Linked DNA regions of Homo sapiens. The protein of the gene in region 3 purifies or fractionates together with the protein of the main gene of each other region. This does not show direct contact. Each region holds a gene or a part of one and is shown on either strand. Other genes may lie near its edges.

What was found.
Region 1: the proteins of AAAS (region 3) and NUDCD3 purify together in Homo sapiens (affinity purification with a luminescence readout; one large-scale study listed by IntAct). This does not show direct contact.
Region 2: the proteins of AAAS (region 3) and ARMC6 purify together in Homo sapiens (co-immunoprecipitation; one large-scale study listed by IntAct). This does not show direct contact.
Region 4: the proteins of AAAS (region 3) and SAAL1 purify together in Homo sapiens (co-immunoprecipitation; one large-scale study listed by IntAct). This does not show direct contact.
Region 5: the proteins of AAAS (region 3) and RAMP3 purify together in Homo sapiens (co-immunoprecipitation; one large-scale study listed by IntAct). This does not show direct contact.

The regions. Positions count from the first base shown.
Region 1 is NC_000007.14:44,405,622-44,412,201, reverse strand, and holds part of NUDCD3 (nudC domain-containing protein 3), read left to right. Parts: intron 1-6,580.
Region 2 is NC_000019.10:19,041,764-19,048,343, forward strand, and holds part of ARMC6 (armadillo repeat-containing protein 6), read left to right. Parts: intron 1-922; exon of another isoform or gene 923-947; coding exon 948-1,114; intron 1,115-2,228; coding exon 2,229-2,311; intron 2,312-6,580.
Region 3 is NC_000012.12:53,310,178-53,315,176, forward strand, and holds part of AAAS (aladin), read right to left. Parts: intron 4,964-4,999; coding exon 4,917-4,963; intron 4,673-4,916; coding exon 4,574-4,672; intron 4,265-4,573; coding exon 4,121-4,264; intron 1-4,120. UniProt on the Homo sapiens protein: Plays a role in the normal development of the peripheral and central nervous system.
Region 4 is NC_000011.10:18,087,339-18,093,918, reverse strand, and holds part of SAAL1 (protein SAAL1), read left to right. Parts: intron 1-1,594; coding exon 1,595-1,674; intron 1,675-3,425; coding exon 3,426-3,485; intron 3,486-3,628; coding exon 3,629-3,744; intron 3,745-4,408; coding exon 4,409-4,589; intron 4,590-6,580. UniProt on the Homo sapiens protein: Plays a role in promoting the proliferation of synovial fibroblasts in response to pro-inflammatory stimuli.
Region 5 is NC_000007.14:45,180,018-45,186,057, forward strand, and holds the end of RAMP3 (receptor activity-modifying protein 3 precursor), read left to right. Parts: intron 1-3,139; coding exon 3,140-3,395; 3' UTR 3,396-4,233; downstream 4,234-6,040. UniProt on the Homo sapiens protein: Accessory protein that interacts with and modulates the function of G-protein coupled receptors including calcitonin gene-related peptide type 1 receptor (CALCRL), calcitonin receptor (CALCR) and G-protein coupled estrogen receptor 1 (GPER1).

The DNA.
Region 1 (6,580 bases), on a different chromosome or scaffold from region 3:
ACAGTGTACTTGCATGTGTATCTTCATCTTATTTATTGTTTGGTAAGGGACACATTGCTCAGCTTCCTGGATATCTTCCTAGTCTTAGAGGGGCCTCAGTGGTAGAGTTCTTATCAGAACCTAAGGGTGATGACCTCTGGCCTGTGACATGGCATCTGCCTGAACATGAGTGTGCCACAAGATTGTATCTAAGGTGGTCTCAATCTCTTTTCTTCCTTCAGACTGCCTTGCTTGTCCTTTGCTGGCATCTGAGGACTTGTCCTGTGGAATGAGGCTAGAAAGAGGCGTCTCTGTATTTCCCCACTGTGCATCTACTTGTACCTCCAATCTTTCCCTTTACCACCCATACATGGACATATGCTTCCAGTTCTCTGGACATATGTTTTCTGTCTTCACCACTAGGGTATATACCTATGGGTGGAATTGCTGGGTCATGTGGTACCTCTATAATTAACTTTTTGAGGAACTGTCAAACAGTTTTCCAAAGTGGTTGTACCATTTTATATTTTACAGATCCACCAGAAATGTATGAGGGTGCTTATTTCTCTGTATCCTCATCAACCCTTGTTATTGTCTGTTTTGGTTTTGTTTTTTAATTGTAGCTATCCTACTGGGTATGAAGTAGGATTTCATTGTTTTGATTTGCATTTCCCTCATGACTAATAACATTGAGCATCTTTTTATGTCCTTATTTTCCACTTGTGTATCTTCTTTGGCGAAATGCCTATTCAAGTCCATATGCATGTTTTAATTGGGTTGTTTGCCTTTTTATTGTGGAGTTGTAAGACTTCTTTACGTATTCTGGATACTACACCCTTGTCAGATACATTATTTGCAGATATTTTCTCCCATTTTATGGGTTGTCTTCACTTTCTTGATACTACTCTTTGAAGCATAAAAGTTTTAAATTTTGATGAAGTCAATATTTTTTTTTTTTGCTTTGGCTGCTTGTGGTGTTATATCTAAAACCCGTTGCCTAACCCAAGATCACAGATTTTAACTCTTGCATTTAGGTTTTTGATCCATTTTGAGTTTAAAAAATTTATTATATGCTATGAAATAGTTGTCCAACTTCATTTTGAATTATTAGACCAGTTTCATTCTTTTGCATGTGAATACTCAGTTCTCATGGTACAATTACTTGAAAATACTATTCTTTTCCCATTGAATTGTCTTGGTACTCTTGTCTAAAATCAATTGATCATAAATATATGAGTTTGTTACTAGACTTTATTTTGAGATAGAGTCTCGCTCTGTTGCCAGGCTGGAGTGCAGTGACGCGATCTTGGCTCACTGCAACTTCTGCCTCCTGGGTTCAAGCGATTTCCTGCCTCAGCCTCCCGAGTAGCTGGAACTACAGGCACGCACCACCATACCTAGCTAACTTGTGTATTTTTAGTAGAAATATGGTTACCCCCTGTTGGCCAGGATAATGTCGATCTCTTGACCTCATGATCTGCCTGCCTCGGCCTCCCAGAGTGCTGGGATTACAGGTGTGAGCCACCATGCCTGGCCTGTTACTAGACTTTTTTTTTTTTGAGACAGAGTCTTGCTCTGTCCCCCAGGCTGGAGTGCAGTGGCAGGATCTCCACTCACTGCAAGCTCCACCTCCTGGGTTCACACCATTCTCCTGCCTCAGCCTCCCAAGTAGCTGGGACTACAGGCACCCGCCACCACACCCGGATAATTTTTTTTGTATTTTTAGTAGAGACGGGGTTTCACCATGTTAGCCAGGATGGTCTTGATCTTCTGACCTCGTGATCCACCCACCTCGGCCTCCCAAAGTGCTGGGATTACAGGCGTGAGCCACTGTGCCTGGCTGTTTTTAGACTTTTAATTCTGTTCCATTGATCTGTATAGATGCCTGTCCTTATGCCAGTACCACACTGTTTTGATTACTGTAGCTTTATAGTAAGTTCTGAAGATTTTATTCCTTGTTTTTGTTCTGTTCCTTCATTATTGACTTGGCTTTTTTGACAGTTTGATTATGACATCTAGGTGAGGCTGGCTCCCTTTTAGTTTATTTTACTTGGAATTCATTGAGCTTCTTGGGTGTAATTTTTTTCATGTCAAATTTGGAAAGTTTTTAGCCATTATTCTTTCAAATATTCTTTCTTCTTTTCTCTTCTGTATGTTGGTATGCTTAATAGTGTCCCTCAGGTTCTGTGACTCTGTTTATTTTTCTTCACTGTTTTTTCCTCCTGTTTCGCAGTTTGGGTAATCTCAATTGACCTGTCTTCAAGTTTGCTTGTTCTTTCTTCTAAATGCTAAAAAGTGGTTTTGAGCCCCTTTCATGAACGCTTATCTTTTCCCCCTTTTACTTTTGAACTCCAGAATTTGTATTTGATTCTTAAAAAAATGGTAATAATAATTTCTATCTCGTTATCAGTATCAATAGTGATACTGATATTTATTGATATTCTCTACTTAAAAGACGTTATTCCCATACTTTCCTTTAGTAATTTTTGCATAGTTTTCTTAGCTCTTTGAGCATATTTAAAATAGGTGATTTAGAGACTGTTTTCTGCTAAGTTCTTCATATGTGGGCTTCCTCAGGGACAGATTTTATTGATTGCTTTCTTTTTCCTATGTATGGGCCATACTTTGTTGTTTCTTTGTCTAATTTTTTTTTTTTTGCTGTTATTGAGAAATGGATTTTTAAATAACACAATGGGGTGACTCAGGAAATCAGATGCTCCTTTCTTCCCATGGTTGCTATTGGTACGTGATATAGTTGTTCTTGTTTAATGACTTTTCTGAACTAATTCTGTAAAGTTTGTATTCTTTATTGTGTCTGACCAGTGAAATCTGTACTTGGTGAACTTAGTGGCCAAGTAATTATTAGATGGCGATTTCCTTAAACTCCTGGGATCAGTAAACACCTGTTTTTGTCGAGGGGCTTCATCTACCTGTTGGAGCATACCTTCATTGCTTGGCCTAACAGTTAAAAACTGCCTTAGCCTTTATTTCCTGCTGATGTTGAGTCAAAGTCAGCCAGAGGTGAGAGCTTAAGGCCTTCTTAGGTTTTTCCTGAGTGTGCAGTGAAGCTCTGTACATTCATGTGTCTTTCTAGATTCCTGGGAAAATGTCAAAGCTTTTCAAAGCCCCCACGGACATTTTATTTCCCACCTTTGCCTTTGGTTTGCCTCAGTTGTTATCTGCCACCTCAGGAGGCTGCAAAGTTAAAACACTTGCCGTATTTTCAACAGACACTCCTGGGTTGGGAGGAAGGCTTTTCTGAGTTTAGCCAGAAACAGTCAGTCAGTCTTGCAAATGAGGTCTTACAGGGAACCATCAGACAGGTCAAATGATGACAGTTCTTTGAGAATGAAGCTTTGAAAGAGCTCTAAGAGCACTGTTTTCTCCAGCGATGGCTGCTACGCTGTACCAGGAATGCGGCCTGCTGAGAGCCTGGAGAGTGGGGATGGGTCTAGGCCAAATTAAAATATCACAGAGCTCACTGTTCTTACTGAGATGTGGTTGTTTTCCTTGAATTAATGCTCCCTGGGTTCCTGCAAACCTTTGGTTAGTTTCCAAAATCCATAAGAAGTTGATACTGACAATTTTTGCCAACTTTTTGGTTGCTTTTATGGAGGAGAGCTTTTTGGAGGCCTGTAGTAACCACCATTTTCACTGACATCCTTTGGATCAGGAATCTCTTAAATCTTTTTTGTTTTCCTGAGGGTTCTTGCTGCCCTTCTTTTTTATCTTGTTATCAAAAATAGTATACTTCATCATAACCTCAGAATTACCCAGATTCATTAATACTGAGTATTGTCTAGAAATCTCTTTCTGCCTGAACTCCACTCTAGACTGGTTATTTCCTGTTCTGCTGTATAGCTACACTCCTGGTATTTTCTTCCTGCGTTTATAGATTAAATGCAGTTTTTGGACTTGAGTTGGATATTCCTCTTTTTCAGTTTTCATCCTCATTTTGTTTTTCTCAAAGTGATATATAATGTAGAATTGTTGTATATCTTAAAATGCATTTATTTTAACTTTTCACTTATTTCTCAGTTTGGGTGTATGTAGAATTCTAGCTTAAAAATAATTTTCCCTTGTTAGGATTGAAAGGGATATCTTCTTACACTCTGTGTAATTGATTCTGGAAGTCTATTCCATCTCTTTGTGAGTAAGCTTTTTCTCCTCCTTGGAACTTTCAGGACCTTTTTAAAAACACCCAGTGTCATAAAATTTCATGAGTCTTTCATTCATTCTGCTTAGCTCTTGGTGGGACTTTTCAATCTGGAGGCATATTTTCCTTTGGCTCTGGAAAATTATCTTATTACTGTCATAATTTCTGGAATGCCAAATTGATTGCCTGAATTGATCTGTGTTTCTACCTTGATTTCTTTGACTTTATCTTCCAGCCTCTTTATTGAAGTTTAATTTTAGCTACTGTATTTTAAATTCTTGTGTTCTTTCTTTTTGGCCTAATTGTTCTATTTTCATATTTTATTCTGGTTATATGGATATAGTGTCTTCTCAGATCTCTGTGAAGACATAAAATAGAAATATTTTTGGATATCTTTTTTCCAAATTAGCTCTGTATTTTTTTTTAACTTGTTTTCATCTGCCTGTTTTTTCTCACAAGATGCAGTCTTCAGTTCTCTAGTTTTTTTTTTTTTTTTTTTTGAGACAGAATTTCACTCCTGTTGCTCAGGCTCCTGTTGCAATGGTGCAGTCTCGGCTCACCGCAACCTCTGCCTCCCAGGTTCAAGCGATTCTCCTGCCTCAGCCTCCGGAGTAGCTGGGGTTACAGGCATACAACACCACGCCTGGCTAATTTTGTATTTTTGGTAGAGACGGGGTTTCTCCATGTTGGTCAGGCTGGTCTCGAACTGTCAACCTTAGGTGATCTGCCTGCCTCGGCCTCCTAAAGTGCTGAGATTACAGGTGTGAGCCACCATGCCCGGTCTTTTTTTTTTTTTTAATACAAAAATATTTTTCTCCCATTCTCTTGAGTGTGGGACCGTATTGATGGGTTTGTCTACTGTGTGTCTGAAACCTGCTCGTCCCACCACCACCGACAGCTGAGTGGATTGACCAGTCAGCTTTGCTTTATAGGACATAGGGTCTTGGCATCCTAATGCTTGAGTGAGTAGGACTTCACTTGACACACAGGCATCCACACTAGGTCCTCAGACTGCTGGTCAGTGTCTTTGGAGCAAGGTCCTCCATTCTTCTGTAGCAAACAGAGGGATTCCTGTCCCTTTCAGTGGGGCGTCCAGGGCCACAGCAGTTCCCACATGTGCCCCTGGCCTTGCTCCTGCTCTGCATACCTGCCGACTCCCAACTGGAGCCTATGTAGCTGTGGCTTCTGGATGTCTCCTACCCTATAGGATTTGTCTCCTGTGCCCCTCCTCCTTTTGTCTTCTGCAGATTTGTTGACATCTCATCTGTTCCTGGCCTCCCTCTTCCCCCATTTTCACTGTCTGGGGTTTTTCTCTTCATGCCTATTATGCCTGCAGTTCACAAGAGGTCAGAGAGATGGCTGTCTGTTCCCAGTGTGACATCTTCACCTGGGACCTCTGGAAGCATTTCTTGTCTGGTTTTCTCCCTTGATGATTTGGTTCATTCCCCTGGGTAGGCAGTGTGAGAAGCTTCCCCAAATTTGGAAATTATTATGTTATATAGAGCTGGGTGGGAGAATTATATTTGTTAAGTGAGCTTGTTCTTGTGAAGGCAGGCTGAGGAGCCTTGGGCCCTCTGTGTCGTGTTTCCATTGCACACAAGTTCATGGTTAGACATGATTTGGCCCAACATGTGTCTGGATCATTTCAGGAGTGAGTGGATCTGTTGTTCCATTTGCTCACGTTCCTCATGGTGTTAGAAGGTAGGGAGTGAAGCTCAGTTGCCTATTGTTCAATAGGACTAGCCAAGTAAATACCCTTTTCCGTGGTAAATTCCCCTATGAAAGGTCATGCAAGTGGAACTGCGATCTCATGAGAGGATGCTTCCTTGGAGTCTGCATGTGAACCTGGCAGAGCCGCCTGTGGTTAGCAGAATATCTTCGCTGTGTCCCCCAGTGGGCAGCCTTCTGCCACCTTCTCCCCTCACTGCATGGCTCAGGAACTATCTTTCATTTAGTAACTATCTGATGGGCTGGATGTGGTGGCTCACATGTGTCATCCCAGCACTTTGGGAGGCTGAGGCAGTAGGATCACTTGGGGCCAAGAGTTCGAGACCAGCCTGGGCAACAGCAAGACCCCTGTCTCTACAAAAAATAAAAATAAAATTAGCCAGGCATGGTGGCACGTACCTGTAGTCCCAGTTACTCGGGAGGCTGAGGTGGAGGGATTGCTTCAGCCCAGGAGTTTGATGCAGCAGTGAGCTGGGATCACGCCACTGCACTCCAGCCTGGGCAATGCAGTGAGGCCGTGTCTCTTAAAGAAAAAGAAGAAAAACTGACAGCGGTGACTCCTGCACATCATTTCTCCCATTTCCATTTTTTATTTACGAATATTTAAACTACAGTTAGGTTATGGTATTGTATTTCATTGGAAATACTAAACTCCAGTTTGGAAAATCTATCAGTTTGGGTTGTCTTTTTTTCCAATCATTTTATAAGCGTTTAATG
Region 2 (6,580 bases), on a different chromosome or scaffold from region 3:
AATACTCACCTCAATCAACAGTTACCTTTTTCTTTTTTGTGGTGAGAACACTTAGAATCTACCCTCTTAGCAAATTTCAAGTATACCATACAATATTGTTAATTATAGGGAGTTCCGAGTTTTTAGTTGATAGTACGATGTTAGAATCTTTTTTTTTTCTTTTTGAGTCAGGGGCTTGCTCTGTTGCCCAGGTTGGAGTGCAGTGGCGCAATCTTGGCCTCCCAGGCTCAAGCGATCCTGCTACCTCAGCCTCCTGAGTAGTTGGGACTACAGGCATGTGCCACCACACTCAGCTAATTTTTATTTTTATTTTGGTAGAGACAGACTTTTGCCATGTTGTCCAGGCTGGTCTTGAACTCCTGGGCTCAAGCAATCCTCCTGCCTCAGCTTCCCAAAGTGTTGGGATTATAGGCATTGACCCACTGCGCCCAGCCAGAATCTTTTTTCTTTTATTCTGATTCCTAATAAGATAATCATTATTATTTGCTACATCCGTAATAGTTTCAGAATAACATTACTAGTATCATTATATTAAAGAACCACCTTTCTTAGATAAAATGTAGTAAACTCTGTGTTCTCTCCTACACTTTGTTTTTTTTTCCCAAGACAGGGTCTCACTCTGTGGCCCAGGCTGGAGTGTAGTAGTGTGATCATGGCTCACTGCAGCCTTGACCTCCCAGGCTCAAGTGATCCTCCCACCTCGGCCTCTCAGAGTGCCGGGATTACAGGCTAAGCCATCACACCCGGCCTCTTCTGTATTTGCAGAAGTTCTAGGGAAGTAGGGATATCACCCTTTCCTGTGATAACAGGTGGGAAGAATTTCTCCAGGGTGGTTGTAGGGCTCTGGTCGCTGGTAGATGCTTCCTAAGTGGCGTTTTCAAGGTGGCCAGGCCCTGCCATTGCCTGCTCACCCTTGAGGTAGCTCTCTCTTTGCCCTAACCTCTCAGCTCAGGAGCATCTATCGGCTGCACGCCAACATCAACACAGGCGAAGATGGTCTCCAAGCGCATTGCCCAGGAGACCTTTGATGCAGCTGTGCGCGAGAACATCGAGGAGTTTGCGATGGGGCCAGAGGAGGCAGTGAAAGAGGCCGTGGAGCAGTTTGAATCGCAAGGTAGGGTGGTGTGACTGTCACCTACCATCCTTGGCTCTTAGATGCAAGAGCAGTGGGAGAGCCCTGCTGCCCCGCCCCACTGGGGGTGCCACATGCCTGGCATAGAAACCAGGTGCCATTGGGCCCTGTCCCCTCCAGCTTCTGCCCGAGGCAGGCTGGTTATCCTGCTCCCACCTCTCACCTGCTTCCACCTCGCCCAGATATTTGTGGGCTGGATCCTTCTCATGAGTCTCATTTGATCACTTCCTTGAAGAGACTTTCCCTGACCCTGGCCTGGGAAACAGGGCCCCTGCCTCCCTGCCCTACTCTACCCTACCTCGAGCTTACAGAGGCAGAAGCAGCCTGTGGAAACAGGTGGCATGTTCAGACCAGGTGCAGATGAGTGTGGTTATGAGGGGCTGTTTGCAATGGTGTGGGTGGGGTTAGGAGACCACCCCTAGCACAACTAGCTCCGGCAGAGACCCTGACTGCAGGGAGCAGGAGTCCTGGGCAGGGGCCACATGATGGGTGCTGGGCCCTGGGGCAGAGGCAGGGGGCTGGGAATGAACACCCCACACTCCCCTCCTCCTGCCCCCATCTCAAGTTCACTTCCCCATTGAACAAACCCAGGGTACAGCCTGAGAGGTCAGAGGTCAGCCTCCTAGGCACAGAGTGGGGTATAGAACACTAGACAGGGGCCAGTGGGACAAGCAAAAGCGTCCAGCACTGTAGGGGCTCCCTGTGGGGGTGCCAGCAGGGGCAAGAATGCAGCCAGAGCCAGGAGGGATGGGAGCCCCAAGGGAGAAGGCTGTGGGGTCCCTCCCTCCCCCACCAAGCCCACCAGGCAGCATGTGGCACCTCACTGCACAGACGTGGCCTGTGATGACAGCCTTGTGTGACAACGGCCTCACTACCACTCTGCTCCCTTTGGCCCACGGACCAGTGGCAGAAACACCCAATACCCTCTACACCCCCGTGATGATGTGGCATGGGCGGGAATAGGGAGGTGGGAGGCTTCTGGAGTGGGGTGGTCCCAGCAGAAGGGTCCTGAGGTGTGATTCCAGCAGGCCCACGGGGATGACAGCTGTCACTTTCTTTCTGACCCCTGTGTGCTTGCTTCCCCCACCCCCAACAGGGGTTGATCTGAGCAACATTGTAAAGACGGCACCTAAAGTCTCTGCAGACGGATCCCAGGAGCCCACACATGACATCCTGCAGGTAGGAGTGGGCATCCCACACAGCAGGTCCTGCGTCACCTCTGTCTGGGGGCACCTCTTCCCTGTTTCCTGGATGGCAGAATACAGGCTCTGAAGGTCATGCCCTCCCCAGCATGCATGGGCAAGCTTGAGTTTGCAGCCAGGTCTCCCTGAGTCCATGTCCGAGGGCGGCATGCCTTCCAATGCAGGGGATCCCAGGCTCCTGTGGTGGCATGTATGCTGAAATCAGGTAGATGGCTTGGTTGTCCCTGCTGCTGGGATCCCAGAGTCAGGGACACCATAGAGGTGCCCCTCTGGCTTCCCAGAGACAGATGGTCAGGACTCATAGGACGAGAGAGTGGGCTCACAGTAAGGCTGTCACTTACTGAGCACTGACTGTTTACCAGCACTTTCCAGCCAGTCCGTTAGCACTGAAGCTCACCAGTGAAGTAGGTGGTGTCATTCCTGTCTTAGTGATGGGGAAACAGGCCAGGAGCTGGCACTTAACCTCTCCAGAGACCGAAAGAAGGAAGGTAAAAGAACTTCAATGCTTTCCGTAAGGTCGCCCATCAAACTTTGTAATACAGCAGAAGGCTCCGGTGTTTGAGAACCGACTGTGGGCCTGGTTCTGTGCAGGTACTTTTTTCCTGTCTTCTTGGTCACTGTCCAAACAACACCTGCAAGGCTGGGATTTCCCCATTGTAGAGATGGGGACATTGAGATCCAAAGAGAAGAGAAGTCATTGACATGGGAGCAGGAGGTGCAGTGATAGGAGAGGAAGTTGGAAGAGACGGCTCTGGGTGTAAACCCGGCTTGCCTAAGGCATGACACTTACTTCTCCCTACCTCGGGGTCCTGCCCTCTCCTGCCTTGAGGAGGTCTTGTGAAAATTGCCTCGTTGTTGTTAGTTTGCTTTTTGCCTTTCTTGCCTAATAAGGATGAATTTATTTTATTATATATATATTTATTTATCTATTGAGACAGAGTCTCACTCTGTTGCCCAGGCTGGTGTGCACTGGCGTGATCTCAGCTCACTGCAACTTCCACCTCCCAGATTCAAGTGATTCTCCTGCCTCAGCCTCCCGAGTAACTGGGATTACAGACACACGCCACCACACCTGACTAATTTTTTTGTGTTTGTAGTAGAGACGAAGTTTCACTATGTTGGCCAGGCTGGTCTCGAACTCCTGACCTCAGGTTATCTGCCCGCGTTGGCCTCCCAAAGTGCCGGGATTACAGGCATGGGCCACAGTGCCCAGCCTGGATGAATTTATTTTAAAATGAGTTTGTCTTCTGGCTATCTTTGCATTGGGTGATTCATCTTTTTCCTACTGATTTGTAGATGAAGTTTATATAGGAAGGATCTCAATAACAATATCGTCTATATTGTCTAGCAGTTACTGCTTAAGTACTTCTTAAGTGCTCAGCATTATGCTAAATTCTTTTTTTTTTTGAGACAAGAGTCTCACTCTGTTGCCCAGGCTGGAGTACACTGGCGCAGTCTTGGCTCACTGCAACCTCTGCCTCTTGGGTTCAAGCAATTCTCCTGCCTCAGCCTCACAAGTAGCTGGGATTACAGGTGCACACCACCATGCCCAGCTAATTTTTTTTTTTTTTTGAGACAGAGTCTCGCTCTGTCACCCAGGCTGGAGTGCAGTGGCGTGATCTTGGCTCACTGCAAGCTCTGCCTCCTGGGCTCACGCCATTCTCCTGCCTCAGCCTCCCGAGTAGCTGGGACTACAGGCGCCCGCCACCATGCCTGGCTAATTTTTTGTATTTTTAGTAGAGACGAGGTTTCACCATGTTAGCCAGGATGGTCTCCATCTCCTGACCTCGTGATCCGTCTGCCTCGGACTCTCAAAGTGCTGGGATTACAGGCGTGAGCCACTATGCCCGGCCTATTATGCTAAATTCTTAAAATATGTTCTCTTAATCTGTGCTCAGCCCATCTTGCTGGTGAGGTATCTGAGGCTTCCCAAGGATCAGTGACCACGCCCCTGCACCCCGAAAGGTCAGCTGGTGAGAGGCAGAGCTGGTACCCGGATCCAGGAAGCAAAGCACTGAAAGGCCGTTCTACCAGCAGTACAGGAAACTCCGTGTTTGTTTATAACATTCGCTCCTTTTTTTTTCTTAACTGTTCTTTTATTTATTCATTTATTTATTGAGACAGAGTCTCGCTCTGTCGCCCAGGCTGGAGTGCAGTGGCGTGATCTTGGCTCACTGCAAGCTCCACCTCCCAGGTTCATGCCATTCTCCTGCCTCAGCCTCTGGAGTAGCTGAGACTACAGGCGCCTGCCATGACGCCCGGCTAATTTTTTGTATTTTTTAGTAGAGATGGGGTTTCACTGTGTTAGCCAGGATGATCTCGATCTCCTGACCTTGTGATCCGCCTGCCTCGGCCTCCCAAAGTGCTGGGATTACAGGTGTGAGCCACCACGCCCAGCCTATTTATTTATTTTTTGAGATGGAGTCTCACTCTGTTGGCCAGGCTGGAGTGTAGTGGCCCTTCCTCAGCTCACTGCAGCTTCCTTCTCCCAGGTTCATGCAATTTTCCTGCCTCAGCCTCCCGAGTAGCTGGGATTACAGGCGTGCACCACCACGCCCAGCGGATTTTTGTATTTTTAGTAGAGATGGGATTTCACCACATTGGACAGGCTGGTCTTGAACTCCTGACCTCAAGTGATCTGCCTGCCTCGGCCTCCCAAAGTGTTGGGGTTATAGGCATGAGCCACTATGCCCAGCCTATTTTTTGTTTTGTAGAGATGGGATCTTGCTATATTGCCCAGGATGATCTTGAACACCTGCCCTCAAGTGACCCTCCCACTTTGCCCTGCCAACATGCCAGGATTACAGGTGTGAGCCAACATGCTCACCTGTTTTTTTTTTTTTTTCTTTTTCTATTTCTTTTTTTTTTTTTTTTGACACAAACTCTCACTCTGTCACCCATGCTAGAGTGCAATGGCAGGATCTCGGCTCATTGCAACCTCCACCTCCCAGGTTCAAGTGATGCTCCTGTCTCAGCCTCCTGAGTAGCTGGGATTACAGGTACCTGCCACCATGCCTGGCTAATTTTAAATTTTATTTTTCATTAAGGAAGAGTGGAAATACATTCTTAGCATAAAGGATTCAAGCAATACTCAAGCATTTATAGTAAAATCTGAAAGTCCCTGCCTTGTCCCTCCCACCAGACACTGGGGTTTGCATCTCAGCGGTCAGTTCGCAACTGAACCAACCCCCTTCTCAAATGCCCTGCAGCATAATTGACCTTTGTGCATCTTGGCTTAGATGTGTAAAAAATGCTTATCTGTTGAGGGAGAAAAAAATTCAACATTGTGATGGTCGTTGAAATTAATCTGTTTGTGTCATAAGATTTGTTGCAAACAGGCTTGTAGAAACAGAAGGAAAATAATGTCTGGAGACTGTCCAGGGAAAAACTGAGCCAGCCAGGCCACATTTATATGTGGGAAGTTGTAGAATGAAAGGCATTAGTCACAGAGACTGAATGACTCCAGGAGTCAATGGGTAAAGCCCCCCTCCATGAGCAAGGTGGTGAGCGCCACAGAAAATTGTCATAGGTAGAACACAGCTGGCTCTGCCACCTGCATTTTAGCAACCATCTGTCAATGAAAATACTCTATAAAATATTTCAAGAGATTTATTCGGAACCAAATATGAGTGACCAAAGGCCCATGACACAGCCTCGGGAGCTCCTGAGAACATGTGTCCAAGGTGGTCGGGCTACAGCTTGGTTTTATACGTTTTAGGGAGACATGAGATATCAATCAATACATGTGAGACGTACATTGGTGTGGTCTGGAAAAGTAGGGCAGCTGAAAGCCGGGGCTTCCAGGTCATAGACACATTTAAAGATTTTTCTGGCCAGGTGCTGTGGCTCACGTCTGTAATTTCAGCATTTTGGGAGGCTGAGGTGGTCGGATTGCATCGAGCTGAGGAGTTTGGGACCAGCCTGGCCAACATGGCAAAACCCATCTCTACAAAAAATACAAAAATTAGGCCACGTGTGGTGGCTCACACCTGTAATCCCAGCACTTTGGGAGCCCAGGCAGGTGGATCACCTGAGGTCAGGTGTTCGAGACCAGCCTGGCCAACATGATGAAACCCCGTCTCTACTAAAAATACAAAAATTAACCGGGCATGGTGGCAGGTGCCTGTAACTCCAGCTACTCAGGAGGCTGAGGTAGGAGAATTGCTTGAACCCGGGAGGCAGAGGTTGCAGTGAGCCAAGATTGCACCATTGCACTCCAGCCTTGGTAACAAGAGCGAAATTGCAT
Region 3 (4,999 bases):
ACACATCCTGTGCTCCCAAACAGCCCTCCTGCCTTGCCTTATCAAAGTACCTCCCAACTCTGCAGCTCCCGCGTTTGCTCCTTATCATAAAGATGCTGCAGGCTGGGCGCAGTGGCTCACGCCTGTAATCCCAGCACTTTGGGAGGCCGAGGTGGGCGGATCACGAGGTCAAGAGATCGAGACCATTCTGGCCAACATGGTGAAACCCCGTCTCTACTAAAAGTACAAAAAAATTAGCTGGGCGTGGTGGTGTTCGCCTGTAGTCCCAGCTACTTGGGAGGCTGAGGCAGGAGAATTGCTTGAACCCGGGAGGCGGAGGTTGCAGTGAGCCGAGATTGCACCACTGCACTCCAGCCTGGCGACAGAGCGAGACTCCGTCTCAAAAAAAAAAAAAAAAAAGATGCAGCATGTGGCTCGGCCTCCATCACCAGCAGGGAACTACCTGAGGGCACCTGCCATGTGTCTGCAGCTGTGTATTTCCAGAGCCATGTGCCTGGCCTGACAGACGAAGGCTACTACCTGAATTAATGCCACCTCTCTTTCCACCTAACTATAACCACCTTCAGCTCCAGTGAAGTCTTAGTCATGGATGTACAATTTAATTCTCTTGAACTTTATGATAAATCACAGCTGCCTTTGCAGGTGGGTTCAGATTCATCTCATTCTTTTCAGTGGCTCCATTGTATACCACTCAATAGATGAACTATAATTTATTGAGTCATGCCTCTACAAATGGACATTTGACTTGTTTGTAATTTTTTATTATACATAATGCTGTAAAAAATATTTCCTGGGCCAGGCATGGTGGTTCACACTCCAGGATGGAGTGCAGTGACACAGTCATAGCACACTGCAGCCTCAAAGTCCTGAGGCTCCTGCCTCAGCCTCTAAAGTAGCTAGGACTACAGGCGTACACCCCACGCCCAGCTAGTTTTTTTATTTTTATTTTTTGTATAGACAGCATCTATGTTGACCAAGCTAGTCTCAAACTCCTAGGCTCAAGCGATCCATCTGCCTCAGCCTCCGAAAGTGCTGGAATTACACGCATGAGCCATCACGCCTGGCCTTGTTTTTTGTTCATTTATTTAAAAAAATTTTTTTAAATCGAGTTCCGCTCTTGTCACCCAGGCTAGAGTACAATGGCATTATCTCAGCTCACTGAAACGTCCACCTCCTGGGTTCAAGTGAATTCTCCTGCCTCAGCCTCCTGAGTAGCTGGGATTATAGGCGCACGCCACCACACCCAGCTAATTTTTGTATTTTTAGTAGAAACAAAAAAAACCAACAACCTTCCAGGCGTGGTGTACGCACCTATAGTCCCAGCTACTTGGCAAGGGGCTCACTTGAGCCCAGGTGTTCAAGGCTGTAGTGTGCAATGATTGAGTCTGTGAATAGCCACTGTATTCCAGCCTGGGCAACATAATGAAACCCCATCTCTAAAAAAACCAAAAAACAGGCCAGTTGCAGCGGCTCATGCCTGTAATCTCAGCACTTCGGGAGGCCGAGGCAGGCGGATCACCTGAGGTCAAGAGTTTGAGACCAGCCTGGCCAATATGGTGAAACCCCTGTCTCTACTAAAAATAAAAAATTAGCCGGTGTGGTGGCACGCACCTGTAGTCCCAGCTACTTGGGAGGCTGAGGCAGGAGAATCGCTTGAACCCAGGAGGCAGAGGTTGTTGCAGTGAGCTGAGATGGCGCCACTGCACTCCAGCCTGGGCGACAGAGTGAGATTCCATCCCCCCCCAAAAAAAATCTGTGATCACGTGTTTTTTTCTTATAGTACCTATTGTCAAGGTTTAGGTATCAGGGTTACATTAGCTTTATAAAAATAAATCAGGAAGATCCTGCAACAAAAAAAAGGGAGGACAGGCCGGGCATGGTGGCTCACGCCTGTAATCCCAGCACTCTGGGATGCTGAGGCGGGCGGATCACGAAGTCAAGAGGAGAATCACTTGAACCCGGGAGGCAGAGGTTGCAGTGAGCCGAGATTGCACCACTGCACTCCATCCAGCCTGGGCAACAAAAGTGGAACTCCATCTCAAAAAAAAAAAATCTCATTATTTTCTTCTACAATCCACTTTGGTAACTTATATTTTGCTAGAAAATCAAACATTTCCACAGGGCACGGTGGCTCACTTCTATAATCCCAGCACTTTGGGAAGCCAAGGCGGGCGGATCACAAGGTCAGGAGTTCAAGACCAGCCTGGCCAATATGGTGAAACCCTATCTCTACTAAAAATACAAAAATTAGCTAGTGCGTGCCTGTAGTCCCAGCTACTTGGGAGGCTGAGGCAGAAGAATCACTTGAACCCGGGAGGCTGAGGTTGCAGTGAGTCGAGATCGTGCCACTGCACTCCAGCCTGGGCAACAGGAGTGAAACTCCTTCTCAAAAAAAAAAAAGAAATCAAACATTTCCTTCAGATTTTCAAATCTGTTGGCCTAAACAAGTCCACAATATTCTTTTATAATTCTTCTATTTTCTCCCGTATCTATATCTTTCCACTTCTGAAAATAGTATACTTTGGTTTTCTTTTTCTCCTTAATTAGGCTAACCAAGAGGTTTTCTTCTTTATTCATATATATACGTATATACACGTATACATACACGTATATATATATATACGTGTATATATATGTGTATATATATAAAACATATATGTGTGTGTGTGTGTATATATATATATATTTTTTTTTTTTGAGACAGAGTCTTGCTTTGTTGCCCAGGCTGGAGTACAGTGGCGTGATCTCAGTTCACTGCAACCTCCGCCTCCCAGGTTCAAGTGACTCTCCTGCCTCAGCCTGCCAAGTAGCTGAGACTACAGGCGAGCACCACCACGCCCAGCTGATTTTTTGTATTTTTAGTAAAGATGGGGTTTCACCGTGTTAGCCAGGATGGTCTCTATCTCCTGACCTCATGATCCACCCGCCTCAGCCTCCCAAAGTGCTGGGATTACAGGCGTGAGCCACCGCGCCTGGCCTTTTTTTTTTTTTTTTTTTTGAGACAGGGTCTCACTCTGTTGCCCAGACCAGAGTACAGCTGTAGTGGCATGATGTCAACTCACTGCAACCTCCGCTTCCCGGGTTCAAGTGATTCTTGTGTCTCAGCCTCCCAAGTAGCTGGGATCACAGGCACGCACCACCACGTCCAGCTAATTTTTTTGTATTTTTAGTAGAGATGGGGTTTCGCCATGTTGGCCAGGCTGGTTTCGAACTCCTGGCCTCAAGAAATCCACCCACCTTGGTCTCCCAAAGTGCTGAGATTACAGGCATGAGCCACTGCGCCTGGCCTAATTTTTGTATTTTTAGCAGAGACGGGTTTTACCATGTTGGCCAGGCTGGTCTCAAACTCCTGACCTCAGGTGATCCTCACGCCTTGGCCTCCCAAAATGCTGGGATTACAGGTGTGAGCCACTGTTCCCAGCCTTTATTCATAATTTTTTTTTTTTTTTGAGACAGAGTCTCGCTCTGTTGCCCAGGCTGGAGTACAGTGGCATGATCTTGGCTCACTGCAACCTCCGCCTCCCAGATTCAAGCGATTCTCCTGCCTCAGCTTCCCGAGTAGCTGGGACTACAGGTGTGTACCACCATGCCCAGCTAATTTTCATATTTTTAGTAGAGACAAGGTTTTGCTATGTTGGCCAGGCTGGTCTCGAACTCCTGACCTCAGGTGATCCAACCGCCTCCACATCCCAAAGTGTTGGAATTACAGGCATGAGCCACCGCACCCAGCTTAGTCATAATTTAAAGAACCAGTTTCTGGTTTTATTTTTAGTTAGTTTTCACAGGTATTCTTTTTCTAATTTTATTAGTTTCTGATCTTATTAGTACTAATTTTCTTTACACTTCCTTTAAGTGTAAAGGAAGTGTATAGTCCTCTGAAAGAGTCTTTCCACCCCGTAACCCACAGACACATTGTCCCCACAATCCAAAAAGCCCCTAGTTCTCTTTCTCCAGATTAGAGTATTCTCAGCAACCCACCTTGATCTTACTTCTGCTTTTCCCATAGCCCTGGGAAGTGCTGTGAGGACAAAGAACTTCTCCTTTCAGACGTCCTCACCACCCACCATGCCTAGCATTGCACAACTCTCAGGCCAAGGTAAGGCAGGCTACTAGGACTTACCGGGTAGACAAGGAGGTAGGGTCCAGGGTCCAGATAAGAATGCAGCTCTGGCAGGCCACAGCCAAGACAGAGGCACTAAGGGGCTTCCAGGCCAGAGACGCCACATTTCGCTGCAGCCGGTGCTTCAGGGAGGGGACTATGGTGCTAGGGTGAAGGGGCAGGAAACTGAGTCAAGGCAGGAACACTAAGGCTCCAGGGACCAGAGTGCAGTTAAGGAGGGAAAGCCACAGAGAAGAAGGATGATCCATCCAGGGGCCAGGGGCACCATAGGACAGGAGGGGATAAAGGTTAGGTCTAGAAGAAGCACGCATCCAGTTATGGAGCTTCCCTGACCCCAGTTCTGGAAGGAGCCCCATGAATCAGGTTCAAGAACTACAGGACTCCCCGGAACCAAGGCTGGCAAGGGAAGGTGATATTGACAAGTCAGAGCCCACCTGGTGTCCCCACACACACCTGCTGGCATTATACACACGGACTGAGTCATCTAGCAGGGCCACTGCAAACTTGTTGGTGTGGGGGTGCCATGCAAAGACACGCAAGCAGCAGCTGGACCTAAGGAAGGGGTTAACATGAAGAGTTCCTGCACCTATCCCTACCCTAGCCCAGAAGCTCACATTCATTTCCAGTAAGGACATGGTTTTTTCCTACTTTTTCTTGTATTCTTTTTTGGGGGAACAGGAGGAATGAGAATATGGTGAGCAATCAGAAAAGGAGTAGGAGTCTTTGCCTTCTCCCCAAAGGGAGTTTTGAGGTTCAGGACTTCCTTTCCACAAAGCTCCAGGGCTTGTGCACTCACCAATTTGTGACTTGGGCAAATTCAGCGATCAGATCTTCGCTCCTGAGCTGTAAGAACAAGATAGACACAGGACACACTGGGGC
Region 4 (6,580 bases), on a different chromosome or scaffold from region 3:
TTGAAAGCTAGGAGTCAAGTTCAACTGCTTTCTCCTTTATCCTCACACTGGATTATTTTGCTTTCACCTTGAGAGTCTTCCTCAGCTTCATCCTTTTCCATGCCTGAGGGCCCTCCTCCTCTTGCATCTTGATAACTGAGGTGCAGTTTGGAATAGTGGTTAAATGCTCAAGCTCTGGAGCTCTGCCGTGTTCTAGTTGGAGATCTTAAGATCTTAGGCAAGTAGCTTAACTTCTCTGTGCCTTAGTTTCCTCATCTGAAAAAATGGGGATACTATTAGTACCTATCACCTAAGTTATTATATGAAATTATACACAGAAAATGCTTAGAGTAATGCCTGGCCACCGTGAGTGGTAATAAACTGTTATTACATATTAATTAACTATTACTGAGATAGATTCTTAAGTTCTTTTCAACTTCTTTTCCCTATACACTAGTCTCCCCTTATCCTTGGGGGTTGCATTCCAAGGCCCCCAATGCCTAAAACCGAGGATAGTACTGAACCCTATTTATAATATGCACAAATTTCCTTTTCCTTCTTCACAGTTTCATGGATAGATTTGTTCTTAGAGATCCTAAGCAACCTCAGCATACATTTTTGTTTGTTTTTCTTATGAAGTCAAGAACTTTTACCTTTTCATGTAAAGAAAGCACTTAATGGCGGCTCCTTGGCATATCCAAATTGCCAGCATCACTACTCTTGTGCTTTGGGGTCATTATTAAGTAAAATAAGGGTGACATGAACACAAGCCCTGTGAGATATCCCGATGGTCGATCTGATAGCCAAGATGGCTACTAAGTAACTAATGGGCAGGCAGCACATACAGTGTGGATATGTTGAACAAAAGAATGATTCACATCCTGGGTGAGACGGTGCAAGATTTCATCGTGCTGCTCAGAAAGGCATGCAATTTAAAACATGAATTGTTTATTTCTAGAATTTTCTATTTAGTACTTTTATACCAAGGTTGACCATGGGTAACTGAAACCATGGATAAAGAGGGACTACACTAATACATTATGCATTTCGCCACCAGAGTAATCTTCCTAAGATACTGTTTCAGTATGTTGTCTCCCCTCCTTGAGCATCTTCATGATTCCAAATAACTTCCCAGATTAAGTCTAATTCTTCAGCACGGCATTCAGAGCCCTTAATCTCAGTCCTTTATACCTGCAGTATTTACCTCATGCTGTTCACCCACTTTGTGCCACAACCAGAGTACTTTATTGTCTACAGTATTCGCCATGTACATGATTCCCTTCCTGCCTTTGCTGATACTTTCCCCTTATTTGAATGTCTGTCTTTTTGTTTGCATATCTCATTCCTATCAATCATTTAAAACTCATTTTATCGATAGAAGTTCTTCTCGCATAGCTCCTGCCTTTGCCCTTTCTTGTTCTTACGTTTTTCATCCCTTCTCAAATACTGTAAGCTTGTCAAGGTTAGGGTACAGGCAGTATATGTATTTCTTTATCCTGCCTCCCCTCCGCCTTGCCCCAAAACTTGGCTCAGCGAAAGTTTTTGTTCAAGTTGATATTTTTGTTTACGTCTTTCGTCTCAGAGCCATTGTGACTTGTAAAATTTGATTTGGCAGGAAATCTGTGTGGGAATTTTAGGTAATATGGCCTGTTTCCAGGAGATATGTGTGTCCATCAGCAGTGATAAAAATCTTGGGTAAGTCTTACTATATAATTATGTTTTTTAATATATTCATTTATATCCTTAAGGAAATTCTAATACATAGGAAAAGTAGCAAATCTGAAAGACAGTCCTTTCTTTGTCTTGATGAACACTCTGTGGGAACTTCATTGTGTGTTGATGATAGCTAGGGGCTTCTTCAGGAGATACTGAAATGATTCAGGATTTAAGCCTGTTTTCTTCAGTAGCAAAGGAACCTGAATTGTCAGCTGGTGGCAATAAGCCAGATAGGGGAAGAACCAGTGGGCCAAAACTTGGAGATGGGGCAGCCAACTGGAATCCAAAACAGTTTAGGGGCAGGGAATCCAATGACTCAGCTGGAGTCTACAGAAACTAGATTTGTTGAATAATGTCATCCTGAGAGCTCTGACTTAGAGTGTAAGACTTGCCAACAACTGGAAGATAAAGGGTTGCCTCTCTGATGAAAAGACTTTCAGATATCTGCTTCGAGGCTCGTTCTCTTCTCCATGTGTAAAGTTCTGGGCAGAAGGTGTTTTAATGGAGGAAACCCCAGTGGTTACTGTGTTCGGAGAACACCCCGAAATTATATGCTGAATTTTGTGAGTGTATTAGTTTTCTAGGCAAAGGGTTCATGGCTTTTAATCAGAATCTCAAAGAAATTTGTACCCAAAATAGGTTAAGAAAACTGTTCTAGGCAGTTTTTGTCAGAGCTGGGGCCATGAGGGTTTTATCACAGGATTCAAGTACCTGGGTTTCTCAGAAAGAGAGAACTCCTAGTTGTGGAGGGACTTTAAGATCCTAGTTCAGAGTATTTATTCCTCAGTAATTTACCATCATCCATGGAACAAATGACTTAAGATTATGTTTGGTCTCTAATGTTCTCTATCAAAAATCCAAAAATGAGAAATGTTAACAAATGTTATAAATTCAGTTAAATGCTTGTCTTAATATTAGTGTGGTGCAATTTATATTGCTGATGGGATATAAATTTGTTGAACCACTTTAGTTGGGCATTATCTGGTCACGTTGGAACATATGCATGTGCTGTGACCAGCTCATAGTGGGCATATATGGTAAGAGAAACTGTGCACGTGTGCATCAGGATAACTCTTAACAAATATTGTAGGAGGATTGCTTGAAATAGCCCCAAATTGGAATCAACAGAAATGTCCATCAACAGTAGTCTGGAAAAATAAATTGTGTTATTTTCACACAATGGAGTGCTCTGCAGCAGTCTGTCAAAGAATAACAGCTAAAGAAACAACATGGGTAGATCTTACATGTATAATTTTCAGCAAATAAATGAAGACTCAATAAGTATAATTTATTTCATATGTTGTCTCCCCTCCTTGACTGTCTTCATGAATCCAAATAACCTCCCAGATTATGTCTATTTATTCAGCATGTCCTCTTAATCCTTTTACCTGCAGTATAAAGCAACACCAAAATATATAAAATAATAAAACTATAGTGCAAAGTAAGGAAATGATTGCTGGAAAAATCAGAATGGTCATCATTTCTAGGTGGGAAAGAGAATTGTGATTTGGAATGGACACATGGTGACTACAAAGATGCAGCTCTGTTCTGTTTCTTGGAAACACGAGTGTTTGCTTTATAATTATTTATTAACTATAGATTTGTATCTTTTGAGCTTTTCTGAATATATGCTGTATTTCACAATAAAGATGTTCAAAAAATTAAATGAAAACTCTGATATTTTAAATGCGAGAAGTGAGGCATATCGGTTAACTTCTTTGTTTTTGTAGGCAGGTGTTATTGCACTGTTTGTATGATTCAGACCCACCTACTCTGCTGGAAACAAGCAGGTATGCTTTTCCTTTTATGAATTCTATAAGGTTACTCATAAGAGTAGATAAGAAAAAAAAGTTAATTTTTTATTTTCGAATTTCCTTTACTGTTTTTTTTTTTTTTTTGAAAAGTAGAAATTCAACCCACGTTTACCATGTAGGTTGTTGCTTACTTGCCTTTCCCAGGCAGAAGTGGCCAGTGTTTGGGTTGAAAGGATCCAGGAACATCCAGCTATTTATGATAGCATTTGCTTCATTATGTCAAGTTCAACAAATGGTAAGTCATCATGTACTCTAGAAAAAAAATGTTTTAAATTGTATCTAATTTTTAGGAAACCATGTAACTATTTCTAGAAGTCACCTTTTTAAAAAAAGCCTTGAGTGCAAGGTAATGAAGTTTGTTTGAGACAGAATCTTGCTCTGTCACCCAGGTTGGAGTGCAGTAGTGTGATCATAGCCTACTACAGCCTCAAACTCCTGATCTCAAGGTATCCTTCTGTTAATCTCCCCAATAGCTGGGACTATAGTCATGCACCGCCATGCTCAGCTCATTTTAAAATTTTTTGTAGAGACGGGGTCTCGCTTTCTTGCCCAGGCTGGTCTCCAACTCGTGTGTTCAAGCAGTCATCCAGCCTTGGGCTCCCAAAAGTGTTGGGAGTATAGGTGTAAGCCACCATGTCCAGCTTTTTGTTTGTTTTTTTGAGAAAGTTTTTTGATTGAAGATACAAAATTTCTTAAACTCCTGGGACACTGATAAATTCCTCATTTAAAAATGAGGAAAGATAAGCAAATTTAAACATAAAAGATAAGTAAATCACCCTTTAGAATAAGTACTGCTTTGGCAAGATTTGGTTTTCTTAGAATAGCTTTAGGAATTTTGCTTAACCCTATTGCTTTTAGCAGTTTGTTTTTCATTTCAATATCTGTTTTATTCTCTGCAGTTGACTTGCTGGTGAAGGTGGGGGAGGTTGTGGACAAGCTCTTTGATTTGGATGAGAAACTAATGTTAGAATGGGTCAGAAATGGGGCTGCTCAGCCTCTGGACCAACCCCAGGAAGAGTCTGAAGAGCAGCCAGTGTTTCGGCTTGTGCCCTGTATACTTGAAGCTGCCAAACAAGTACGGTAGGTGAGCTCTTTTGTGTAAAATGTTCTGGGAAAATGCAATTGCTAGAAGTATTCTCAGATATAAAAGTCTTCTTATATTCCTTACAACAGAATAAAGTACATAGTCACTCCTTGTTACGTTAATTCACTACTACTATTTGTGATGCAACCTGTATAGTGGTTACAAAGTTCCTGTTATATTATCATTTAGCTATAGGCTGTTACTCAACATTAACTGTGGTTTCTGTCTTACCATATTTTATGTAATTTAAATCAAAGAGAAAACATTTTCTTGTGCTTTATTTTACATTGAACATTTAACAACTTCATTAACGTTGCACATCATTTGCTTTTTTTTGCTCCTTGTGTTTATATGCCAGTCTTCAATAAGTGACCGATGTTGGGACTCTGATGTCTTGCCAAGAGTGATTACTAAGCCTTACAGGTCATTAAAACTGTTTATTGCTAATCACTAGAAAATTAATTTTTAAATTGATCTGCTTAGTGTTTTTCTTAGTGCATTCTTAGTGCTGAGTAAGCCACATCAAAACCTATTAATTTTGTGTCCTTTATCCAAGTGAGGGATAAATTCATCATCTTTCCCTAAACCTGCTTCATCAGTATTCTCAATCTCAGTAAATGATGTAATCATTATCCTATTTGGATAATGTAGAAGAAATGGAGAAGCCAATTACTGAATCTTTCCTGCCCCAGTATTTTCCCATTGCAGTCAACTCCCAACCCTTATTCCTGACATTTTCTGGGATTCCATCCATGCCAATCAAGCCATTATTGTTTCTCATCTGGAGAACTGCCACATTCTTTTACTTGAATTCCCTGCCTCTATGCTTGCTCTTCCCAAGCCTAGACTTTAAAGCTGTTTTTGCAAAGTACGCACTCATTTCACTCTCATGCTTCGGTCTTTTCAGTTGCCTTCCTTAGGATAAGGTCCAGAAAAACAAACAAACAAACACAGCTTGGGTACTACATACATCACCTGGGTGATGGGACCATCCATATTCCCAAACCTCAGCATCATGCATGTAACAACCCCCAACATGTACCTTCTGAATCCAAAATATAAATAAATAAAATAGGGGAAAAAAGAATGAAATAAATGAAAAATTCTCAAAAAAATAAAGTACAGCTTATGGACCCAGTAGCGCTATCCTTATTCCTTGTACTCTGCGTTTCAGTCATGTGAAGTTTGCGTCACTTCTTCAACTGAACCAGGCTGTCTTGTCTCCAGGCCCTTGCACAGTATGTTTCCTCCACCTCAGACACTTCTTTGCCCCTTCATGTTTCTGTGTAAACATCATTTTTCTTAAGATACCTTCCCTGACCCTGCAAACTAAGTCTCCTTGCTTTGTGAAGTTCCTAGCCCATAGTGCTACATTAGTACCACTTTATTGTAATTACCCCACTTGGAATCTTCTTTCCTTTTAGAGTATAAAGTTTATGAAGGTAGGGATAACATCTTATACATCTGTTTTCTCAACTCCTAACATAGTGCCTGAAATTTGTAAGTACTTAAATAAACATTTGCCAAACCATTGTTTTAATTGTTCACTGTCTTTTCACTTGTTTGGTTGAAGAACTAAGATTTTGAGTTTCCAAACTATTTAGATTTTTGAGAATCCAAACGGTTGATCATAAGAATTAGACTTACATGGTTTTAGTGTTCTCAGCTAGGGAGCTAGGTTAATCCTGAGACATTTTCAGAACATCATTATTGTTGATGCGTGATGCAGCGGACCTTAACGTTCATACTATAAAAATCGCAGTCTTTTTTTGTTCTGATTATTCAAGCAAACCAAAATGATAAAGTATCAACTGGTAGGTTTCTGCGTTGTTGCTTTTATGAGATAGAGCCAAAAAGTTTTTTTACTTCTTGTCCTGTGTGTGTTGATTATATTATATAATATTTGTTTATTTTTTGCTGTTTCCCCTATTAGAATATAAAAGCTCTAACGAACACAGAGACTTCGTTCCTTTCCTTGTTTTATCCT
Region 5 (6,040 bases), on a different chromosome or scaffold from region 3:
TCCCGCCAATTTGTCCACTAATTAGGGAGAAACGAAAATACTGTCAGACGTGTGGCACCTCCAGCATCTGATTCCCACATACCTTTCTCAAGCTCTGGCGGCTGTGCGCCAAGGTGTGGAGCAAACCACGACAAAAGAAGCTATGAGATTTGGGGAGCGGAGCCAAGGCAGGAGAGGGAAGCCCCAGGGAGGGCGGTGCCCCAGCGTGGCAGTACACCCTGGGTGGAGGCAGCCTGGCCCAGGTGGAGGGCACTTGATGCTTACCTGACATGGTGACTGCCTGCCCATGCCCTGCAGCCCAGCTCAGTCAAGAATGAAGGACACTCCTTTCTTTCCCCTGAATGTTCATTCTGCTTTGGTCCCCACTGAAGCAGGGTGGGCCTTGGTGAGCTTAGAGGAGAGGTGGCTTGCTCCCCTCAATAGGACTGGTCCACATGACGACCCCATCAGGAGTCGAGTCATGGCTGGGAAGACCCTATTCCCCAAACTCGCCCATGGCCTGCCTGTGGCCTTCCCTGGGGAGGAGTCTCATTGCCCCTCGGGGCAACCAGAGCGTGTCCTCTCCTGGGAACCTCCCTCCAATAGCAGCAATGGGCTCCTTCTGTACCCAGTTAAGGAGCATTGCTATGGGATTTCCAAATGCAACACTATATTGCCTGGGAACACACTCAGGTGGTGAAACATAAAGGAAGGTGGGCAAACACCCCAGAGGTGGGTGGGGGGAGAGGGAGTCTGACTGGGGGGTTTGCCCGGCTTCCAGCCTGCTGGGCTCCTCTCCTTCCCATCCTGGGTTGTGGTGCATCTTTTTTAGGGAGAGTGCTCTGGGGAGCCTGACTGAAGGAGGAGTGGAGAGGCCCCAGATTATCCAGGGGATGAATAAATCATAAGTAGTTCCCGGTTTTCTAGAGAAGCACTGAATGTGGACCTCTCTAGATATGTGACAAAAATGCAGATTTTGTGGATCCACAGAGATGGGTGCTGTGCTCAGCTCTGCCCCAAACCTAACAGCTGGGGTGGGCTCACCCCATGACCTCCTCTGTGCCAGGCACTTGCTGGGGCACATGGACCTCAACTCATTTGGTTCTCTCAACCACCTGATAGGATAAGTGTTATTAAACCCACTTACAGATGAGGAAACTGAGGTCCAGGGAGGATAAATGACATGGCCCATACCACAAAGATGGTGAGTGGCTGAGCTGGAGTTGGAGAGGCCCTGCCATGTTGGCTCTGCAACCTGAGCCTGAAGCCACTGTCCATGCTGTCTTCTGGGATTACCTCTGCTCCGTGGGCTTCTCCATGTGGCCTAGCTTTGGCTGGGAGTGGGGTTTGGGAACAGCAGGGGCTTTCAGCCCTGCCTCACCTCCTCTTGGGACGGTTCTGGGGCTAGACATCACTCCTCTTGCCCTGTAGACTCGCTGTCCACAGAGGGTCTTCTCCAGGGTCTGTCTGGCTCATCTCAGCCCTGGGGATGGTTGTTGGGGGGTGGCATTCCTGGGTAGCAGTTCAGTGGAATGACTTTGGAGGCACAGAGGTTACCGCATGTGATTCTCATCACACACATAGATGCTGGGAACTTCTGAAGGTGAAGGCTGTTGCAGGGTGTTGTTAGACGGCTCCCCAGCTCCTGGATCAGCTGGCGGGGGGTTGGGGTGGACAGCAGGCTACTGAATCTGAGGCCCTGTGGGAGAAGCAGGTCAGGGAAGATGAGGGTTTGTCCATGGACCTAGCTGTTGAGGTGTCTCTAATGCCTGGGCATGTCTCAGGTGCTGCATTGTGGCTGAGGCCCAGGAGAGCCAACAGCTTTGTACTTGGATTCGAGGCTGTTTCTTTTGCTCTGGCTGTTCTCTGCTGACACTACCTGGAAAGGCACAGGTGTGTGTCTGACCTACATTCCAAGGTGCTGAGAGCCAGCCTTGGATCAGTCAGGAGCTGGGCTGAGTGACTGTACCTGGGCTTCCCAGACCCTTCCTGGGGCATGGGGTTGGGAGACCAGGAGAACCCTGGGTGGAGTAGGTCAGAGTCCCTGTTTCCTACCCCTTTCTGATGCTTTGGGAAATCTACGCCCAGATGATGTTCCATGCAGGAGGCAGCTCTTTCCTGTTGATGGGCCAGATCAGTGGCTCCCTCCTGGGACAGCGCGGGAAGGAGGAGATGGGCTACTTTCCCATGGGGAAGCCGAGGCAGGACCCTTCACACTCCTGCATCTGTACTCATGCAGCACAGACGTGGGGAAGTGCTAGCCCTGCACAGAGGGGGTGGCATCTGGGCAGGAGTCCATCTAGCTTCGTCTAGAACATCCTGAATGAGTGGCTGCCACTCTAGGCCTTGCAGACCCCAATGACAGGGAGGTCATCACCTCCACAGGCTGCCCATTGGAACAGGTGGTGGCTGGGAAGTCCTTTATGCTGAGTTGACCTCTGGGTCTTGGTGGCTATAGCCCTTGGTCAGCATGAGGACTGTCCAGAGCCTGTGCTGGGCGGTCATGGAGCATCATGGGTGGTTTGCTGAGTGCCCTTCCCATCTTTGATCTCATGGACAGGGGGACCCACAGGAGGGGGCTCCACATGTCCTGCTAGATGGGGCTGAAGGAGGCAACTTCTGAGTAGGAGATGAAGAGGCAGGGACTGGGGCTCACAGGTCTGACTCCCACTTGGCCACCACCTGGCACATGAGGGCAGGCTGACTTGATTAGGAGGTGGCTGGCCCCTGGCCTCAGAGAGACCCTCCTCTCAGGCTCTTAGGGTATCCTGGATGATGAAGGCTTTGCAGGTCCAAGCGGCTGTGATCCAGGCACCCTTTGGCCCTGGAGAAGCATGGCTTGGTGTGTCCTCTGGGCAGACCTGCGTAGTGCTTAGAGGTCCAGGGAAGCTGGGCTGAGACCCTGGATCCTGGGAGCTCATGGCCTCAAAGGCAGCAAGTCATGGTCATTGTGATGCAAATGTGGGCAGGGGACACAGGGAATGGGTCATGGGCACAGATGACCCTGTGGCCAGAATGGGGATTTTCCAAGGCTGGGCTGTGAATAGGTGGCCAAATGGGACTGTACCCAAGCCACCCCACCCATCTTCCTGGCCTCAGGTCAGGGCAGGTGTGAGGGGGGATGGCGAGAGCCTGGCTTTCACCCCCTCTGCTTTTGCAGGTACTATGAGAGTTTCACCAACTGCACCGAGATGGAGGCCAATGTCGTGGGCTGCTACTGGCCCAACCCCCTGGCCCAGGGCTTCATCACCGGCATCCACAGGCAGTTCTTCTCCAACTGCACCGTGGACAGGGTCCACTTGGAGGACCCCCCAGACGAGGTTCTCATCCCGCTGATCGTTATACCCGTCGTTCTGACTGTCGCCATGGCTGGCCTGGTGGTGTGGCGCAGCAAACGCACCGACACGCTGCTGTGAGGGTCCCGGTGAGATGGAGTGGGTCACACCTGGCAAGCTGGAAGAAAGTTCCCTGGGGATGGGAGAGCGGGTGGGTGCTGCCAATCTCCAGCTACTGTGGCCACACCCCACCTGGTCATGGGCAGACCCCTCCCTTCCTGGGCTGACCTGCTCCCTCGAGGCCAGCCTGCTCCCTGGCTGAGGCTCAGGCTATCCGCCCAAGCTCTTTGCTCATTCTAGGGCCAGTGGAGGAAAATGTGATAAGGCCAGAGCTTGTGTGCTGGGCACAGAAATCACCTGCTGCATCCTGTGCTCCGCAGGCTGGGCCGGAGCCTCTGCCCGCAGGTTTCTATGCTGTTTCTTAGCACAGAATCCAGCCTAGCCTTAGCCGCAGTCTAGGCCCTGCTTGGACTAGGACTCCTTGCTTGACCCCATCTCTGGTTCCTGCCCTGGCTCCTGCACCAGCCCCAGCTCCTGCCTACATCCAGGCAGAAAGATAGGCAGGGGCTCTTGGAAGACGTTCCGTGCTGTGACCTCCGAGCCCTCCTGGTGGGAAGACAGCTGGAAAGGCTGGGAGGAGAAGGGAGGGGCTGGGGGTTCCCAGGAGCCATGCGTGGCCTGCAGAGTCCATTCCATCATGATGCTGTGCCCGCTATGGGCTGTGTCCATGACCAGAGGCTGGAGTGGGGGTGTGTTAGAGCCCCTCACCGGGACTTGCTGTGCGGATGGGGCCTGGGCCTCCTTCCTACAGGGGCTCCTCTGTGGGTGAGGGGCCCTCTGGAATGGCATCCCATGAGCTTGTGGCCTCTATCTGCTACCATCTGTGTTTTATCTGAGTAAAGTTACCTTACTTCTGGAATTTCCTGTTTTGTTTCATGTTATTCAGAGAGACGGTGCATCTCTTGGGACTGATGAGTCCCCTGTACATATTGTACAGATAGGGAACAACTGAGGTTCTGGAATCCCAGAATGTCAGCGCTTAGGGGGCTCAGAGAGTGTTACAATAGGAGAGGGGCCTGACAGGAGGAGGGACTTGCCTAGCTACTCGCAGCCCCTTGGGCACTTCCCATCCCTGACCCATTGGTTTGAGGATGACAGGGAAGATTTCTCTCTCTTCTGTTTTCCCTTTGCAGCTGCCTTGGGCTTGCTAGGACCCCTGCCTGGGTTTTCTGGGGACCGAGAGGCCCTGGTCAGGTCTGGCTGGAGGCAGATGCTGGTCCTGGGGGGTCCCTAGAGCAGGTGGAGGGGCTTTATCTCCAGGCCTCTGGCCAGGCCCTTGTCCAGGCTCCAGTTCTGTGGACCTGTGTCTTTTGCATGTGGGCTGTTGGATCCAGGATCTTCTTGCTGGATCCCAGGACCCCTGTGAGTGGAGGCAGGCACGACCCTGGTAGTTCCTCTGCCTTTAGAGGCCCAGCTCCCCTTCAATGCCCAGGCAGGCAGGTTCTGGCACTGGGGATCTGCATGGTGGATGCCACTGGACCGGAGGTCTGGGTGGGTGGCCTGAGCCTGACCCCATTGGGGGCACAGTGTAGGGGACAGAATCTGAGTCTACTCCATGTTCTTGGGGCAGCCTTGGCCGGGCATGAAAGGTTGCGATCCCCATCACCTGAGCCTTGGCCAGCTATCTCTGAGATGGGACACCATCTGCCCGATGAGGTGACTGTGTGGAGACAGGGAGGTCAGCGTGCCCACAGGTGTCAGGCCATCTGGCCTGCAGTGGTGGCTCTGTGTTCAGTGGATCCTGGGGTCTCTCATGGGGCCTCTGTGTAACTTGCTCCCTCCAGCCCATTCCGATTCCAGAACCACTCTGCACTGGGTTCCTGGCTGCTATGGTAGAGGTGCAGCCCTGCCCCTTGGCTAGTGTTAGGCACCCCCTGGTTGTGCATCCCTGAAGAAATGCTTGAAATGTGCTGAGGGAACCCCCCAACAAGGGGCTGGGACACCTGCAGCTACCTCCTGGGTCCCCTGGAACCCAAGCCCTGGAAGCTGCTCTGAGTAGGGAGTGAGCCTGGAGTCATGCTCTGGCCTCCTCCCAAGCTCTTGGGCACTGTCTTCTGATCTGCTACCTCCTCCCTGAGGACAGAGGTCCTGGGGGGCCTGGTGAGATTTCCGTGAGGGTTTGGATTCCTGGGGATGGGGTCCAATGAGGGGTGTTCTGGAGGCTTGGAGGTCCCAGGGCAGGGCCCTCAATCACTGTTTCCAGGCTAGGTAAAGCATCAGGCTCTAATTCAGTCAGATGCTGCTCTTGCTGAGTGCACTCTGGAGACAGCTTGAGTTTTTCTGCGATGCAAACTCCAAACTCGGCAGGAGTTTCAAGCTCCCTCACCAGGGACAGGGCCGGTGGGTGCAGCTACACTGCTGTGTGGGCAGATTGAGGAGTTGGGTAGGGAGCCAGGAGGCCTGTCCACATAACCCTGCAGAGGCTCACAAGGCAGGAAGGGACATCAACATTTACTCAGCCTTGATCAGGTGAAAGAGAAGTAATTATTCAGGCAGTAAGAGGATATCTATTCATGTTTCCTATTGGAATCTTCTTTCAATTTTTACTTCTCCATGTGTTTTCTCCAGGGCACCAAGGGTCTAAGGTGCCAGGCCCACAAAGGGAATGTGCTTGTGTGGGTGTATGTGTGTATGTGTGTATGTGTGTATGTGTGTGAGCGTGTGTG